Regions from separate parts of the Homo sapiens genome. Here region 2 is linked to region 1. A link means that fine-mapping ties the variant in region 1 to the expression of a gene that starts in the linked region. Tissue or cell type: whole blood. Region 1 holds a variant in brackets; the other region holds the start of a gene. All regions are shown on one strand. Distances are from middle to middle.

Evidence for each region. PIP is the estimated chance that this variant, and not a neighbour inherited with it, causes the effect.
Region 2: it holds the start of SPIDR, and the variant in region 1 is fine-mapped to the expression of SPIDR in whole blood (TOPMed, PIP 0.94).

The regions. Positions count from the first base shown.
Region 1 is chr8:47,883,689-47,891,688 of GRCh38, forward strand. PRKDC (protein kinase, DNA-activated, catalytic subunit) reads right to left here. Exons shown (of 86, transcript NM_006904.7): 32 at 6,569-6,792; 33 at 5,326-5,534; 34 at 4,830-4,962; 35 at 3,859-4,017; 36 at 2,256-2,459. Among named protein-coding and RNA genes, the nearest start is that of PRKDC, 72 kb to the right of the region's middle. The variant C/A (reference allele first, on the strand shown) is at 3,463.
Region 2 is chr8:47,256,533-47,265,062 of GRCh38, forward strand. It overlaps SPIDR (scaffold protein involved in DNA repair), which reads left to right and starts at 4,406. Exons shown (of 20, transcript NM_001080394.4): 1 at 4,406-4,459. The coding sequence starts at 4,427. RefSeq lists a silencer at 4,120-4,669.

The DNA.
Region 1 (8,000 bases):
AAGAGCCTTTTTTGTTCTCTGATGTTCATTCTCCATAGCAATTCTTATTTCACAGTTTTGTCTCTCATCTTTCAGTTTTTTTTCTCCAGCTTACATTTCCATCTCACTGAACAGGCCTTGCCACAGTTGCCTGTGTCCCGCTACGCCCTCTGGCGTCCCTTTCCTCAGGTGCCTGAGCCCCTGGGCTGCCGGCTCACAGGTATCACCTGCCTGGAAGCGCTGTGCAGCGTGCAGGGCTCGCTGGTGGGGAGGATCACTGTCACTGACCCAGCTGGCTATGATGCCTGCATCTTTATTTTCTCTTAGGGCTTGTCAGGATATTCTGGTGCCCTGCCAAGGGCAGATGCTGAACTGAAAGTATTCAGAGGGAAAGGGCAGACAGCCTGAAAGTCTAGAATTTAGGTAGGTTAGTACTTAACTTTCCTCTTTTCCTGATGGTATCCACATATTCAGCCATGCCAGAGCCCCCAGTCTGGAGGTCTCTATCCTCTCCAGGGAGTCACTGCCTCCTGCCTTCTCCTCAAGTGGGGAGGATCAGACCCCCAGCAGCAGAGACAGGAGGCTGCCCTGCAGGGGAGAGCTGGCCTTTGCCCAATCCTCTCTTCTCAGCCTCTGCTCACCCCTGCTCGCATGTCTGCCCTGCTGGGGCTCAGCACGTGTGGACCCCAACTTCCGAAGGCTGCATCACCTCGCTGCTATCTCAAACTCTGCATGCAGTCTGCCACACCTGTCCTTTTGATTTACAACTCTTGTCACTCTTGGAAGTCCTTTTCTCTGTGTCCTTTGAGATTGTAGAGGTGTTTTAAAAATCTCATTCTGTTACTTTAGAGGAATTTAGGGAAGGAATAGAGGTCAAAGGCGTATGTTTTTTCTATCATTTCCATCAGAGGTCATAGTTTAAGAAATCAGAATGTTAAATCTGAGTGTCATCTACTACGATTTTATTTCTAATTTTAAAGAATACAAATTCCTACTGCAATCTACCACAAAAGATTCCCCTACAACAGAAAAGCACTGTTTGCAATAAAAGCTCAACTTAGGACATCATGTACTCTCCCTTAAAATGGTCATATCAACAGTTAACAGTTTCTGTCCACAGAACAAGTTAAATTTCAAAATCCCAGAGGTTTAGCAAACGAAAGTCAACTATATATTAAATACTGATCTCCAGGGAGAAAGGGGGACACAGCAGGAACATGCCAGAAATGATAACTCAGCATCGAGGCCACAAGAGAACTCTGAGAACAGAGAGGTCTACCGGGGTGCAGAGACCTGCCTGCAGCTGGTATGAATGCAAAGCCAGCTCTGGGCCCCAGGACGGGTTTGTAAGCTCCAAAGCCACATCTTGGCAAATGTCAATACCCTGCATAGCTGTGCCTTATAATATTTAGGCTTAGAAATTTGCAAAGCATAAGGGAATAGAAAAAACAATCAATGTTTTAACATCCAATAACACTCATTAGCTATTTCTTACTTTTTTAAGACAGAGTCTCGCTTCATTACTCAGGCTGGAGTGCAGTGGGCATGATCTCAGCTCACTGCAACCTCCGCCTCTCAGGTTCAAGAAATTCTCCTGCCTCAGCCTCCTGAGTAGCTGGGATTACAGGCACACACCACCATGCCTGGCTAATTTTTTGTATTTTTAGTAGAAACAAGGTTTTGCCATGTTCGCCAGGCTGGGCTTGAATTCCTGACCTCTGATGATCCGCTCACCTCCACCTCCCAAAGTGCTGGGATTACAGGCATGAGCCACCATGCCTGGCCTAATATTCATTAACTATTGATAAGGGGTATGTTTTGGGTTTTTCTGAGTTTGTTAAAAGCAAGAGCTTTCAACCTTATAGGAAAAAGTCTTGTCATACTTTAATGAAATATTTCAGGAATATGGCAACCCTTTTATAAGGATTATATAAGAAAATATTGACCGGGTGCAGTGGCTCACGCCTGTAATCCCAGCACTTCGGGAGGCCAAACTGGGCGGATCACGAGGTCAGGAGTTCAAGACCAGCCTGGCCAACATAGTGAAACTCCGTCTCTACTAAAAATACAAAAAATTAGCTAGGTGTGGTGGCGGGTGCCTGTAATCCCAGCTACTCGGGAGGCTGAGGCAGGAGAATCGCTTCAATCTGGGATGCAGAGGTTGCAGTCAGCAGAGATCGTGCCACTGCACTCCAGCCTGGGCGAAAGTGCAAGACTCTGTCTCAAACAAACAAACAAACAAAAAAAACAGTTTATTTAAAGGGAAACTTTGTTACCATTTTGGTATTATCCACTGAAGACTGCATGAGCTCCAATACAGCAAGATCCAGATTTTTCAATAATTCCGTGTTGATCGTTTCTGAGAACAAGCTATAGAAATACTCCCCATGGGAGAAGTGGATGACGCTGCCCTGTGAGCTGCCCAAGGACGCCGTGGACAGCACCGCTGGGTTCAGGAGAAGACTCACAAGGCGCTCACACTGGGAAAAAGAAAGGAGAAGTACCATAACTGGGGCACATCTTTGCATGGCACAGAAAGACCCTTGGGCAACTGATAACTTTGAAATTGGAAAATGACACAGGTCTAAAAAGAGCCTGATATGTGAAGCCTGGATTCAAGCTGAAATTGTATATATTTCAACTAGCCTCCATTTTCTAGGTTTCATTTTGGGAAAGAAATCTTCCTTGACCCATATTTCTTCCAAATGTCCAAAAGTCTTGTTGTTGTGTTTTATTTTTTGAGACAGGGTCTCGCTCTGTTGCCCAGGCTGGAGTACAGTGGCACGATCTCGGCTCACTGCAAACCTCCACCTCCTAGGTTCAAGCAATTCTCCGGCCTCAGCACCCCCGAGTATCTGGAATTACAAGTGCGTTCTACCACACCTGGCTAATTTTTGTATTTTTAGTAGAGACAGCATTTCACCATGTAGTTCAGGCTGGTCTCGAACTCCTGACCTCAAGCAATTCACCCGCCTTGGCCTCTCAAAGTGCTAGGATTACAGGCAATAAGTCACCCTGCCCAGCCTTGTTGTTTTTTAAAGACAGGGTGTCACTCTGTTGCCCAGGCTGGAGTGCAGTGGCATGATCATGACTCACTACAGCCTTGACTTCCTGGGCTCAAGCGATCTTCCCACCTCAGCCTCTTGTGTAGCTGGGACTACAAGCATGTGCCACCATACCTGGCTAATTTTTTAAATTTTTTTGTAGAAACAGGGTCTCGCTATGTTGTCCAGGATGGTCTCAAACTCCTGGGCTCAAGCCATCTGCCTACCCCAGTGTTGTTGCTTTGAGGATAGTCTATTAAGGGTGAGTATTTTTAGACAATTTAAATATGTAATTGTTTACATTAATCGGACAAAGGGGTGAAAAAGGGGTTTCTGCTACAGAAGAAAGAAAGTTGGGATGGAGTGAACACAGAGGGCTGGCTGCAGATTTCAGCTACAGCAGGGACTATTTAAGGCCAGCCCTGCATGGTTCAAAGAG[C/A]CATGAGAATATTTTTTTGGAGACTCTGGTTCCTCTGGGATTATCCTTCAGAGGCCCTCCCAATCATCCATGTGAAGGACCACCAAGGAGAGGAGAAGAGGCCACATGTCAACATGACTCAGCTTCATAGTCACAAAACGTTCTCTAGCTAATTCCTTTTGGAAACAAAGTGGGATAGACAAAACCTCTATTTAAAAAGAATGTTGTTCTATTCCGTTCTTTTTTTTTTTAACTATTGAGAAAATAATCTTTTAGAAAGTTGGCTCATGCAAATCATACAATACTTGTCCAGCTAAAACCTTACTACCCAAATTCCACAGTTTCTAGAGACACCTGCAAGTGACATATGTATTTCTATTATTAGGGGAGTGCAGCATGCAGAGGCGTTTTTCCTACCAGTCCTCCAAAAGCAAAGGCTAACTCCAGAAGTCCGCTGGCCAGCTGCTTACAACTGAGGTCTAGAGAAGGCAGACACTGTCTCTCATCTCCAGGGGCAATGCCTTTATAAACCAGGGAAAGAAGTTCTGTGCCAACAGAATGATGCAAATCTGTGGACTAAAAGGAAGCCAACACTGAAATGCCTAGCAAAAAGATATTTCTTAGAAAAAAACAACTTCACTCCTCTCATTAAATAAAAAACCCACTTCAGATAGCACTGACAACTACCTTCCAATATTCAGAAAAATTTTAATTCAACTTTGCTTTTGTTGTTCTTGCTATTGTGAGACAGGGTCTTGCTCTGTCGCCCAGGCTGGAGTGCAGTGACACAATCGTGGCTCACTGCATTCTCAGGCTTCCAAGCTCAAGCAATCCTCCCACCTCAGCCTCCTGAGTAGCTGGGACTACGGGTCCGCGGCACCCACTCCTGGACAATGTTTTTTTTTGTTGTTGTTGTTTTTTAATTGTTTGTAGAGATGAATTCCTGCCATGTTGCCTGGGTCGGTCTCAAACTTCTGGCCTCAAGCAATCCTCCTATCTGAGCCTCCCAAAGTGCTGGGATTACAAGTATGAGCCACTGTATCTGGCTCAACCTTGCTTTCTATGCTAGATTCTTCATTTGTGTTGTCTTGCCACAAAGGCACAACAGCAGTTCCTAAAGTTTTTCAGAAAGCTGCTCTGTAAATACCTAAATGTCCTTTATTTTACTTTCATTTTATATTTATAAATTTTTACATTTGCTTTCATATTTATATTGATATATCATAGATATACAGATACATAATATCTACATGTCTTGAGCAAGTATTTCTATAATTCCCATTTCAGCATGCTCAATACATAAAGGACTTTTAAGAAATAATATAAATAAATACACTAATTATCATACTAAAGCTAAAATAAATGTAAAAACAATAAGTTATAGTTACCTGAGACGGTAATATATTATGCAGAAGCCCAGCTCTGTGAAGCTGTTTACAGGCAGACACAACAGCAGCCAGCCTGCTCCTGTCCACTTGCGCGTCAGGGCCATACAAGTTGACGGCACAAAGCTCCTCAATGCTGGCCATGTGACAAAACAGTAAATTAGGTGAGCTCTGATCTCGTTAAATTATCAAGATACACTGAAAAAAATGTTTGCACTGTTATGAAGCAAACAGAGGCAACATCTAACAGGATCCACACGCACTAAGCTAGCATGGAGATCAAACATGGCGCTAACCATGTCTGAAGTTTGCTTAAGTTTGGTACAGGGAAGGCACTAGTTAAATGTGTTTTCTAAACAACTATTGAGGTCACTGGCAGCAAACATCCCACTGATATAAGCCTTCCCTGAGGAAGCAGGAGCAGCTGCAGGAGCACGGCAACATACTAGGGCCTGAAATTCCAGGACAACATGTCCCCGATTGTGACCCAAGTACCCACCTCTGTGCTGTTATTTTCTCTCTCAGATGGGTCTCTAGGATATCTTTGTATGGGGACATCTTTAGAGCTTTCATCAGATTCACACAAACATCAGGAAGATGAGCCATAACCTGGACGTCTCCGATGTTGAAACCTATGCTTGCGGGCTCACACAGCGTCTGCACCAGGACTCTCATCAGGTGTGTATTACACAAGTCCTTCTTCAGGAGCTGTAACAGATTGTTTGATAAAAACACTTCGTCAGCCAGCACTTCTATTTTCACCAAAGTGCAGGGCCCACAAGGTTGGGAACTTCTGCCTGACTAAGGGAGAGGTGGGCAGAGTTTCTCTGTAAAACGGGGGCACAGTAAACACTTGAGGTTTGTGGGCTAGACAGTCTCTGCTTCAACTCCTTACGCGTCTGATAAGAAAGCAGCACAGACAACAGGTGGACAGAGGCGCACAGCCATGCTCCTATTTAGCTTTATCTACGGAGCAGGCAGCAGGTGAGGTTGTGTCCATGGACAGGGTTTCCCCGCCCCTGACTCAGGACACTGCTGCATCCCAGGGCCTGGCGTGCCACAGGCACCTGGCAGAGATTCCCTGAATGAACTGACTGGAGTTTGTTTATACAATAAGCCTCATGGATACATCTATAAATATTTGCGAGTGTGTGTTTCCTAAGGTAGATGTTTGATCATAGCATAAAATACAGCATCCAATAAAACAATTAGAAAAAACTATTTTATATTTTATTCACACAGTGAAACTCTGAAGGACATGCAAAGTTTCATGATTTTCAATAGATCATTCATCATGATGACTGTAGTTAATAACGATGCATTGTAATTTTGCAAATTGCTAAGAAAATAGATTGAAAAGTTCCCATCAGAAAAAATGTTACATATATGAGGTAACAGATACGTTAATTAGCTTGATTTAGCCATACCACAAGGCAGAGCATATCAAAACATCATGCTGTATACCATAAATACAGTTTTTGTCAACTAAAACAAATTGACAAATTGATTTTGACATATAACTTCTGACAATGCAAAGTTTTAGAAAAGCCAAAACCTAGCCTTCTCTTCCTGGTTCTTCCTGAAGTCAGGAAAAGCTGGGTTGAGAGGATGAAATATAATAATAATAATAATAATAATAATAATGATAAATTTTTATTAAAAGCCAAAACCCCTTCTAACAGAAACCTTTGAAGTAGTTTTCCAGTACCAAAAACTGACCTCAAATTAACAGAGCAGCCTACCTTCCATCCTTCCGGGGAGGTGTTTAGCAGAGTCGTGGTAAACTCCATAATCCGGACCACAACGGTGCATTTGCTGTAGTTGTACCTTTCTCCCTCTTGTGGGCTTGTTCTGTTACCTGCTGCCCCAGTGCCAAAGCACTTTTCTGCTGCTATAATGTCATGCATGGCAATGCTTTCTAAGAAGAAAGCCACTGCTTTCAAAAGTGAAGACTGGGCTTCAGTACCTAGAAGCAATTATATTAAAGTATTAATATATGCTTCCTTTCAACTCCACTAAGATTAACATAAAATTGCTTCTGTAAGTATAGGCATGGTATACGTTCAGCAAAAATTCAAAATTTTTCAAAAGAAACAAACAGCTTAATAATAGCTGAATAAAGTGGCATTTATTTTTTCTCATATCAAAGGACACATTGATGGAAAGTCAGGTCTTTATTCCCAAACATTACATGTGAGAAGATAAATTAATATGCTCATTTTAAAGGGCAATTTGGCAATTCGTACCAAGTTTTTAAAAATATGCATGCCAATTTCTATCAAATGTTTAAAAACTCATTATGCTTTGATCCAGCACTGAAATTTTAACCTAATGAAATGACTGCAGAATTGAAGAGATGTGGTTGTAAGAATCTTCTTTTTAGCACTGTTATCAATAATGAATGTTATTAATAATGAAAAAATAAAAAATCCTGTCCTTCAAAGGACAGAGACAAATTATGGAGCAGTCTTCAAGCAGGTGTGGACAGGCACCAGTCATCTTATGGAATCAACTTTCAGATCAATCCTCAAACGGGCTTTGTCATAAAACTCGTTTGTCTGAAAACACCCTGGAGCTTGTTCTCCTTTCCCATCTCAGGTTGTTCATCAGGACTCTCCTGCTTAATGAAAGACAGACCCACCCTCACCTCTCTCCAGTCTAACTGTAGTTTATTACTCCAAGGTGCACAGCCCTTTAGAGTGCCAAGGGACAATTTAAAATACTTGTACACTGTTGAAAGAGTAAAGGCAACAATTGAGTAGGAAAGCCTTTTTGTAAGTCTCATGGTTTCTAATTCTTTGTTTCCAACATAATTTAAGGAAAGTCAATCCAAACTGTCAACTGACCTCGTTAAAAATAATTTTGATAACATGTATTTTGATGTATTCCAAGAACTGAGATAACTTATATTAAGAATTATTCTCAGCCGGGCGCGGTGGCTCACACCTGTAATCCCAGCACTTTGGGAGGCCGAGGCAGGCGGATCACGAGGTCAGGAGATCGAGACCATCCTGGCTAACACAGTGAAACCCCGTCTCTACTAAAAATACAAAAAATTAGCTGGGCGTGGTGGCGGGCACCTGTAGTCCCAGCTACTAGGGAGGCTGAGGCAGGAGAATGGCATGATCCCGGGAGGATGAGCTTGCAGTGAGCCAAGATCGCGCCACTGCACTC
Region 2 (8,530 bases), 630 kb before region 1:
TCAATGATTAAAGAAAAGGCTGACAAGGCCTTTTCTTCCCACCCTGAGTGCACGGATCTCCTAGTCGGATGTTTTGTGGGAGACCACTGTGCAACAGCCTGTTACTCCGTGCAATTGCATCCAGTCCAGTGCTTCTCACAGGTGAGCATGCATCAGAGTCAGTTGAAGGGCTTGTCAAAACAGATTGCCAGGCCTTGTCCACCAGGTTTCTGATTCAATTGGTCTAGTATGGAGTCCAAGAATTTGCATTTCTGACAATTTCTCAGATGCTGCTGATGCTACCAGCCCCTCACCAAACATTTTTAAAATAATTATTTTATTGAAATATAATTCAAATACCATAAAATCACCCTTTAAAGTGTACCATTCAGTGATTTGTTACAATATTCACAGTTGTACAACCATCATCACTCTAGAACAAAGTACACATTTTTCTTAATTTTTCAATCTGTTTTAAAAATAGGTATACAAAACAACATAAAAAAGTAGAGATGGAGAAGTCCTCCTCCCCTCATCCCAATCACTTGGTTCCTCCCCTCCACCAGGTAACCCCTTTTATTTCCTATACATCTATTTCGATGTAGCATTTCTTCAAGCAGATATAAGCAATATATGGTCTTTTCCTGTTTTCTTGCACTAGAGAGGCAGCACACTATGAATCATATTCTGTCAATTGTTTTTTTCATTTAGTAAAGCTGGAGATCATTATGAAGGTATTACCATGGCACATTTAACAGTCTCCTTACTCTCCAAGTAAACAAATATATCAATTTTTTCTAGTCTTTTGCTATTGCAAACTATGCTGCAAAAAATACCCTTACATACATATCATTTCACATGTGTTATCATTTCATATGTGTATCCTCTAAAATTCAGGTGTTGCCAAATAGGCCATGAAGGCTCCTCCATCACTAATAGGATTAAGGCCCTTATAAGAGGCTTCACGCAGCATTCAGCTAGCTTGCTTTCTTGCCCTTCTGCCTTCTGCCATGTGAAGATGCAGCAGGAAGGCCCACACCAGACACCAAATGCCAGCTCCTTGATCTCAGATTTCTCAGAGTGAGAAAGTAAGTATCTGTTCTTTGTAAACTACCCAGTCTCAGATATTCTGTTATAGCAGCACAAAACAGACTAAGACAATATGTGTGCAGGTGTATGTGTAGGATTAGTTTCCAGAAGTAGGACTGCTAGCTTAAAGAGTAAATACACTTATAATTTTGAAGCATATTTGATAGGAGTTGCATAATTTTGTACTTTTGTTAGCAATACATTAGAGGGCCCTTACCCCAATATGTGTTGTCCAGGACTTAGATTTTAGCCAATATGGTAGGTGTGCAGTTTAAATTTGCATTTCTCTTGTCATGAGTGAGACAGTACATTTTTCATATGTATAAAAGCCATTTGTGTTCCTTTCTCTGTGAACTGCCCTTGTCCTTTGCCCATTTTCTACTGGGTTTCCCCCAAGGAATACTCTTGCTTACTCCTCCAAGAGTAATTTATACTTTAGGGGGCTGTTTCTATATAACATCAATATGAACTATTCTTTAATTTTGCCATTTGTCTTTGCCTACTGTGTTTTTTTTGCCATGCATAAATTAGGGTTTTTATGTAGTTGAATCGATCAATCTTTCCTATTACGACTAGGACATTTTGAGTCATAGTTGGAAAGACTTTCTCCCCTTTCCCCCACTCTAAGATTATAAAGGAATCTGGTCATGTTTTATTCTAATACCTTGACATTTTTTCACGTTTAAATCTTGGATTCATTTATAGCCTAGAGCACTGTCATCTACCAGACTAAAAAAGAATATGGATGAGTAGATTCTAAACATTTCTCCCCATATTAGATCTTTCTTTAAATACAATCTTGCCCCATATATAAGACAGATGGAAGAGAGCTGCCCTGAAGGTGCAGCAGAGACCCTCCTGTGAGTCACACCCTCCCCAGACTCCATGGATCTCCATGGAATCCTTAGGATGGCTGTAAGCAGAGTGAAGACCACAGATATCTGCAGAACAGCAACTAGGCCAAAAAGTTTGATGAGAAAAAAGTTAAAAGAAGGACTTTCTGGTTTGTCTTGATGTTTGCCATTGAGTGTTTGCTGAGGAGGAAATGAGGCAAGACTGGAGAGGACTTAAGAGACCCTTTCTGCAGGGGCTCATCTTTATTATCAACAGTTCCCTTTTGCTGAGTTCATATGTTCAAGTGAAAAATTCCTCATGATTCTACTATGATCTGATTGGTGTAGTGGAGAATGCATCGACCTTGGTATCACATATGAGTTCTAATCCTGAACAGTTACTAGCTGTGCAGCCTCTGGCAAGTCATTTCTGTTTCACAATTAGCAGTTCATCCATAGTAAATAACTGAGTACTTTGTATATGGAAGACGCTGTGCTAACTGATAGAGATACAAAAACGGAGAAGATAGAAATGGTATTACCTTACAGCATGGAGGTGGAACCACATGGTAAACAAATAACTTTCGTAATTATTTAGATTCTAATTGTTATAACATCTTCAACAGAGCATGAGGTCCTGCGGACATGGAAGAGCAGGGAGGTTCAGGCTTGCTAGTTTAGGGAAGCTGGCCACCAGGTTCAGGTTTGACAGGCGCATAGGAAATGGCATGGCAGAGGGAGGCCAGAGCCTTTTAGGCAAAAGGAAGAGCAAATGCTTATTAGACCCCAAGGCTGCAGGAGCTAGGCACGTTTGACCACCGAAAGGGAAGGCCAGTATAGACAGCATAAACCTCACTGTGGTGTCTGTGTTGAGAATGGATTGTATGTGTGTGCTGTGTGAGGGGCAAGAGTGGATTAGGGGACATGGGTTAAGAGCTACTAGCAGTCTGGGCAAAAGATACTAGTGGCCTGGGAAACAGTGGTAGTGGAGAGTGGACACATTAGTAAGACACACAAACGTGTTCACAAAAATTCCTAGGTTTCTGCGTGAGCTGTGGCCAGGTGGATGTCCATGCCACTACTGAGATGGCGAATTCTGAACAGGAGGAAGTTTGGAGAAAAACCCCAACATTTCGGCAGGACAGCACCTCCTGGTGGAGATGACAAGCGGGAGCCTCACCACAGGCCTGGTTGTGGGAGTGAAAGGGGGACTCCGGGCGCGGTCGGGTGCACTTACTGTGCTAAGACAGCAAGGCCCGGCGGAGGTGGCAATGGCAGACCTGGTTTCTCGGCGGAGTCCCAGTGGGAGGCCCGGTGTCCAAAATCCTCAACTAGATTGGGCATGCCGTTTATCTTGTTCCAACTGTTGACAGTAATGGCACTAGCAATAATGTCCTTCCCAGGCAAAGATGGTTTTTCTTCCGTGTTTTCAGCCACTGCAGAGTGGACATCTACTATGAACCAAGTATCTGCGGCTTTAGGTACCAGATTCAAACACAGAATGGTGGCAGAACAGGGACTAGGACGGAGAGAAAACCTGAAGATGGATCAACCAGGAAGCAATGCATTCTCACAGAGGCACAAAAAAATGCCTCTGAAACAGAAGATTCACCTCCACTTCTGCGTCCTTTTGAGGCAACTTTCTGAGCATCCTTTCCTCCTCCCCAGGCCAACGCTTTTCCACCTTGTTAAACTACCCGGTAGCTTTCTCCATGGGAGGCGCCTTCTTCACAGTACTCGGACCCAGTTACACTTGTGGCCTTCCCCGGCTTCTGCTGGGCCGGCTATGGTCGACGCCGCACCGTCTCAGGCCCACTTCTCCTGCGGGAGCGGCGGCCCCAGCGGAGCCCCTGTGCGCCACGGCGAACGTGATAGGAATGCAATCTTCCGCCCCTTCAGACTCTGGCACCCCGTAGCCTTTCCTCAGGCTCCACGAGTTCTCCCGGTGATGTGATGACCGACATGGCGTCTGGGCTCTGAACACAGACTTTACTCCTTCCCCCCGGCCCCGAAACATGGGGAAACCACACCCTCTCTGCTCCAGTCACCAGCAGCCACTCCCATTCCTTAAGTATCCATTATTGCATGTGTAGCCTATTGCATGTGTAGCCTACTTCTGGTTTTCATTTTTATTTAAGGTCAGTTGTTGCCTGACAACACAGACGACAGTAACTTAATTCGAAAGACAATACTTGGAGGCGGCCCCCGCTCCAGGCACCAGCCCAGCAGCTCCCCCGAACTCCCCAGGAGCTCGCGGGCGAGCAACGCCACAGCCCAGAGCGAGCTCCGCGGAACCCCCAGCCCCGGGGAAGGAAGCTCGACTCTCCGCGGGGCACTCCTTCCGGGCTCCGGGCCCGACTAGGCCATCCGGGAGGCCCTGGAGCGCCGGGGCCGGAGAAGCCCTGCCCCCCGCCGAAGCCCCGCCCTGCGCCCGAGCGCCCGCCAATGGCAGGGCGCGGTGCGGCGCGCCGAGGTGGGACGGCGGCGCGCTGAGGAGGCGGTGCGCTCAGGCGGCGCTCCCGGAGATGCCCCGCGGCAGCCGCGCTCGGGGCTCTAAGGTAGGCTCTGGGGCGGGAGTGGGCGCCGCGCCGTTTCCCGCGTTGCGGGGAAGCGGCGGGCCGGCGCGGGGCTGGCCCCGTTGTGCTGGGGTGAGAGAGGGTGGGCGTTGGGGGTGAAGGGCTAGGTGGTGGCGGGTCCCGTCTGCGCGCGTGGAGCAAGCCCGCGCAGTGGGGTACCGCCCCCAGGTCCGGCTCCGGTCCAGGCGTGCGGGCCGGGCCCTCAGCGGCGGTACGGAAAGCGAGGGGTGGGACCGCCGAGGGACGCAGCGGGCGGGAGCATATGTCCGCCTCGGGGGTACTTGGCCTTACTCTTGTCTCTTTTTGATTCTGGTGTAATGTACCAAACCGCAGGGAATCCTGGCGTGGTTTTACCCGTCTCCGCGGATAATCCACTGTCAACTCTGTCTCTCTTCCTGCCGCACTCGGAGGGGACTGTGCGGCTGACTGCCCAATCCGTGGGCACCGCGCTGCCTCGGGTTCCAGAACGGGAGCGGGTGCCTAGGAATCGTTGCTTGAATGGTGTTTGATTGCACCTGTATCCGCGAGTGCATCCTTTTTTGTTCTGCTAATTGTGCTTGTCATGGCATGTGTCCTTTATCGTTTTAAAGTTTCTTCTAACTTCCTTGCTTTCAAATACGTTTGTCTCATAGTAAAACGGTTTTTAAAAAGCAAACACAGGACCTCCTTTCTTGACTCTTGCCTTTACTTGAAAACTTCCTGGAAAAAATAGACCACATATACTGGTTCAACTTCTTTACCACTACCATGCTTTCTCGCTTCTCAAATACCATTGATTATCAGCCCACACTATCAGTTTTGTGACTGGCTTTAGGGAATAAAGAAATTCATTTCAGGCACCTCTTGATTATAAGATACAGTCTGATTTCTGAAGCATTAATGTGTGAAAAAAATCAAGGAAATATATAAATTTGCTAAATCCAGTGTAAGTTGTTTACTTGATCATTGGAGCGTTTGACACATTCACCACCTGCTTTTATTTCTTTTGGAACATCCATGATTGTTTTCCTGTCTTGCAACAGCTCATTTTCTTCTCTTTACTGTGTTCGTGCCATGTTCTAATTTTTGACCTTGTGCTTTTTCACATGTTCCATATTTGCTTTGGACAATGTCATACATTGAAGTTAACTATATAGATGACTTTCAGATCTATATTAGATCTTTCCCTAGAGCTCAAACTTAGTGCATCACATAATCATCATCTCACCCTTAGTCCTCCAGGCCCTAACAGTTTCTCTTGACTTAGAAATCTTAGTATTTTTGAATTGACGTTCACTTCTGGTCTCTTCATCTTGTCATTTTTCAAGACTCTTTTTTTTTACTCAATTTTTTTTAGTAGTCGTACAGTTGTCTATTGTGTAATACGTTGCTGAAAACTGAAGCAGTTCATAACAAATGTTTATTATATCATAGAGTTTCTGAGACTCAGGAATCTGAGAACGGCTCAACTAAGTGGTTGTAGTTCAGGATCTCCCACAAGGCTGCAGTCAAATAAAGGGTCGTTGGAGCTGGAGAATCCAGTTCCAAGCTCACTCACGTGGTTGTTTCTTGACAGCTGCATAGGGCAGCTCACAACAGGGTCCTGGCTTTCCCAAGAGCAAGAGAGAGAGCAACAAGATATCGGTCCCCGTGTCTTTTATAGCCTAAACTCAGAAGTGACATCCCATCTCCTGTCTATTCATTACATGGACCAACCCGGTACAATGTATGAGGAGACTATAGAGGGTCCCCAGGAGGTGGGGATCACAGGGGCCACCTTGGAGGCTGGCTTCCACAGTATTTCCCAGGAATTTATTTTTTGTTTCTGTCTCCCTCGGTCAGTCTCAAAAGTACTTAATGGTTGGAGTGTTGATGTGTAGTGCCGGCTAGCATGCTCCCATTCCATCTTCAGAGGTGACTTTCCCTTAGGCACTACTTTGATTATATTGTTAGTCCTCTATCTAAATCTCATTTTACTTCTTATTGGCTACATCATAATTTACTGCAGAACTTATCCTGTGTTTAGTGCTTTATATGTATTAACTAATTTAATTATTTTAACAGTCCTGTGAGGTAGATACCATTAGTCTCATTTTATGGATGAGGAAACTGAGGCTCAGCAGAGAGGCTAAGTAATTTGCCTAAGGTCACACAGCAGTTAAGGGAAGAAGCTAGGATTTGTATCCAGGTAGTCTGCCCCAGACCTTGCTTTTGTTCAGGCTCTCAGCCTGTTATTCACAGCCTCCATAATATCTGTGTCTTATTCCTTTACAGCTTTGCTCATTATTTATCTTATAGGTAAACTAGACTACTGCGTCACTGTACTTGCTTGCCCCTTGGTGGTAATTGCGTATGTTCTTGGTTTGGAATAATGCCAGTTCTCCCATTTCTGCTGATTGAAACCTTTTTTTTTTGAGACGCAGTCTCGCTCTGTCGCCCAGGCTGGAGTGCAGTGGCGCGATCTCGGTACAGGCGCCAGCCTCCACACCGGGCTAATTTTTTTTAAATTTTTATTAGAGACAGGGTTTCACCGTGTTAGCCAGGATGGTCTCGATCTCCTGACGTCGTGATCCGCCCGCCTCGGCCTCCCAAAGTGCTGGGATTACAGGCGTGAGCCACTGCGCCCGGCCATGAAATCTTAATCATCCATTGAGGCCTACTTCAAATCCCACCTTCTCCCAAATTATCCCAGCTATAAATGAACTTTCTTCTGTATGTTCTTGGTTTGGAATAATGCCAGTTCTCCCATTTCTGCTGATTGGAATCTTAGTCATCCATTGAGGCCCACCCCAAATTTCACCTCCCAAATTATCCCAGCTGTAAATGAACTTTCTTCTGTAGTCTGTGGAATTTTATGTAAATAACTCTTACTATTCCATGTCTTACATTAGGTTTATTTGTGTCTACACCTTTATTCCCTTATATTCTAGACATTTAAGATTAGGGACTATTTCTTCAGCCCATATTCCCCAGAATACCTGTCATATCCCTTGTATGTACTAGATATCTGATGAATTAATGAAAGGAGAACTAGTTTAGAAGATTTGCAAGTATTCCAGGTGTGAAGAAACAGGAGGAAATACCCTAGTCCGAAGACTCGGATATCTGCCTCAGCAGTACAGCTGAATGATTTTGCAGTTTTGGACAAGCCACACAGATATATCACGACTCTTAAGATGAAAGGTGGTGTGGTTATGGACTAAGGTGGTGGAATTAGGAATAGAATAGAAAGGACTGGGTTGACAGACTACAAATGGAAGGTGAGATTTAGGCAACTGCAATTGAAAGAGGAAGAGGAGGAAACCCATGGTGATTCAGAAAGTCGAACCTATGAGAAGTGAGAAAGTTGTTTGCCTCTTAACTGATGTTAGGATATATAGATATATCCTATATATCACATATATAGATATGTGGTATTTAAGTCCCAGGGAGATTAGGGCAGTCAGTTGCTCAAAGGCTGGGGTATCTTAGTTCTTTCCTCACTCCCCTCTCCTCCATGAGTTTCTCCTGCCCTAGCCCCTCACTATCCCTTAACATGCTGTGATTCTTCCCTTTGTGCCTTGTGTTCTCCCTTTCCTTATGAAGTAGCCAAGGACGACCACATATACTCCTGTTCTTGGGCAGCAGCTTGCCTTTTGAGATTTTCTTTTTTTTTTTTTGAGATGGAGTCTTGCTCAGCCACCCAGGCTGGAGTGCAGTGGCCCGATCTCGGCTCACTGCAACCACTGTCTCCTGGGTTCAAGTTCTCTGAATAGGGCAATATACCTAACATTGAGTTGTCGTTTCTTTATAAAATGGGGTTAATACCTATATTGCTGGGTTGATGTGAGGATTAAATTATGAGAATGCATGCGATGATATACCGAGCATATAAACACTCAATAAATGTTGGTGATAATGAAAGCAATTAATAATGAAACACCATGATAATTAAAGAAATCATATGAGGACAAAGATATTGTACATCCTCTACTGCTTTGTCTCTAGATTTCCCTGGAATTGCTGTCTTTCAGCTTCTTGAACAAGAAATAGGAAAAAGGCTCATTTTCAAGTTTTTCAGTGATGGCAGGAAAT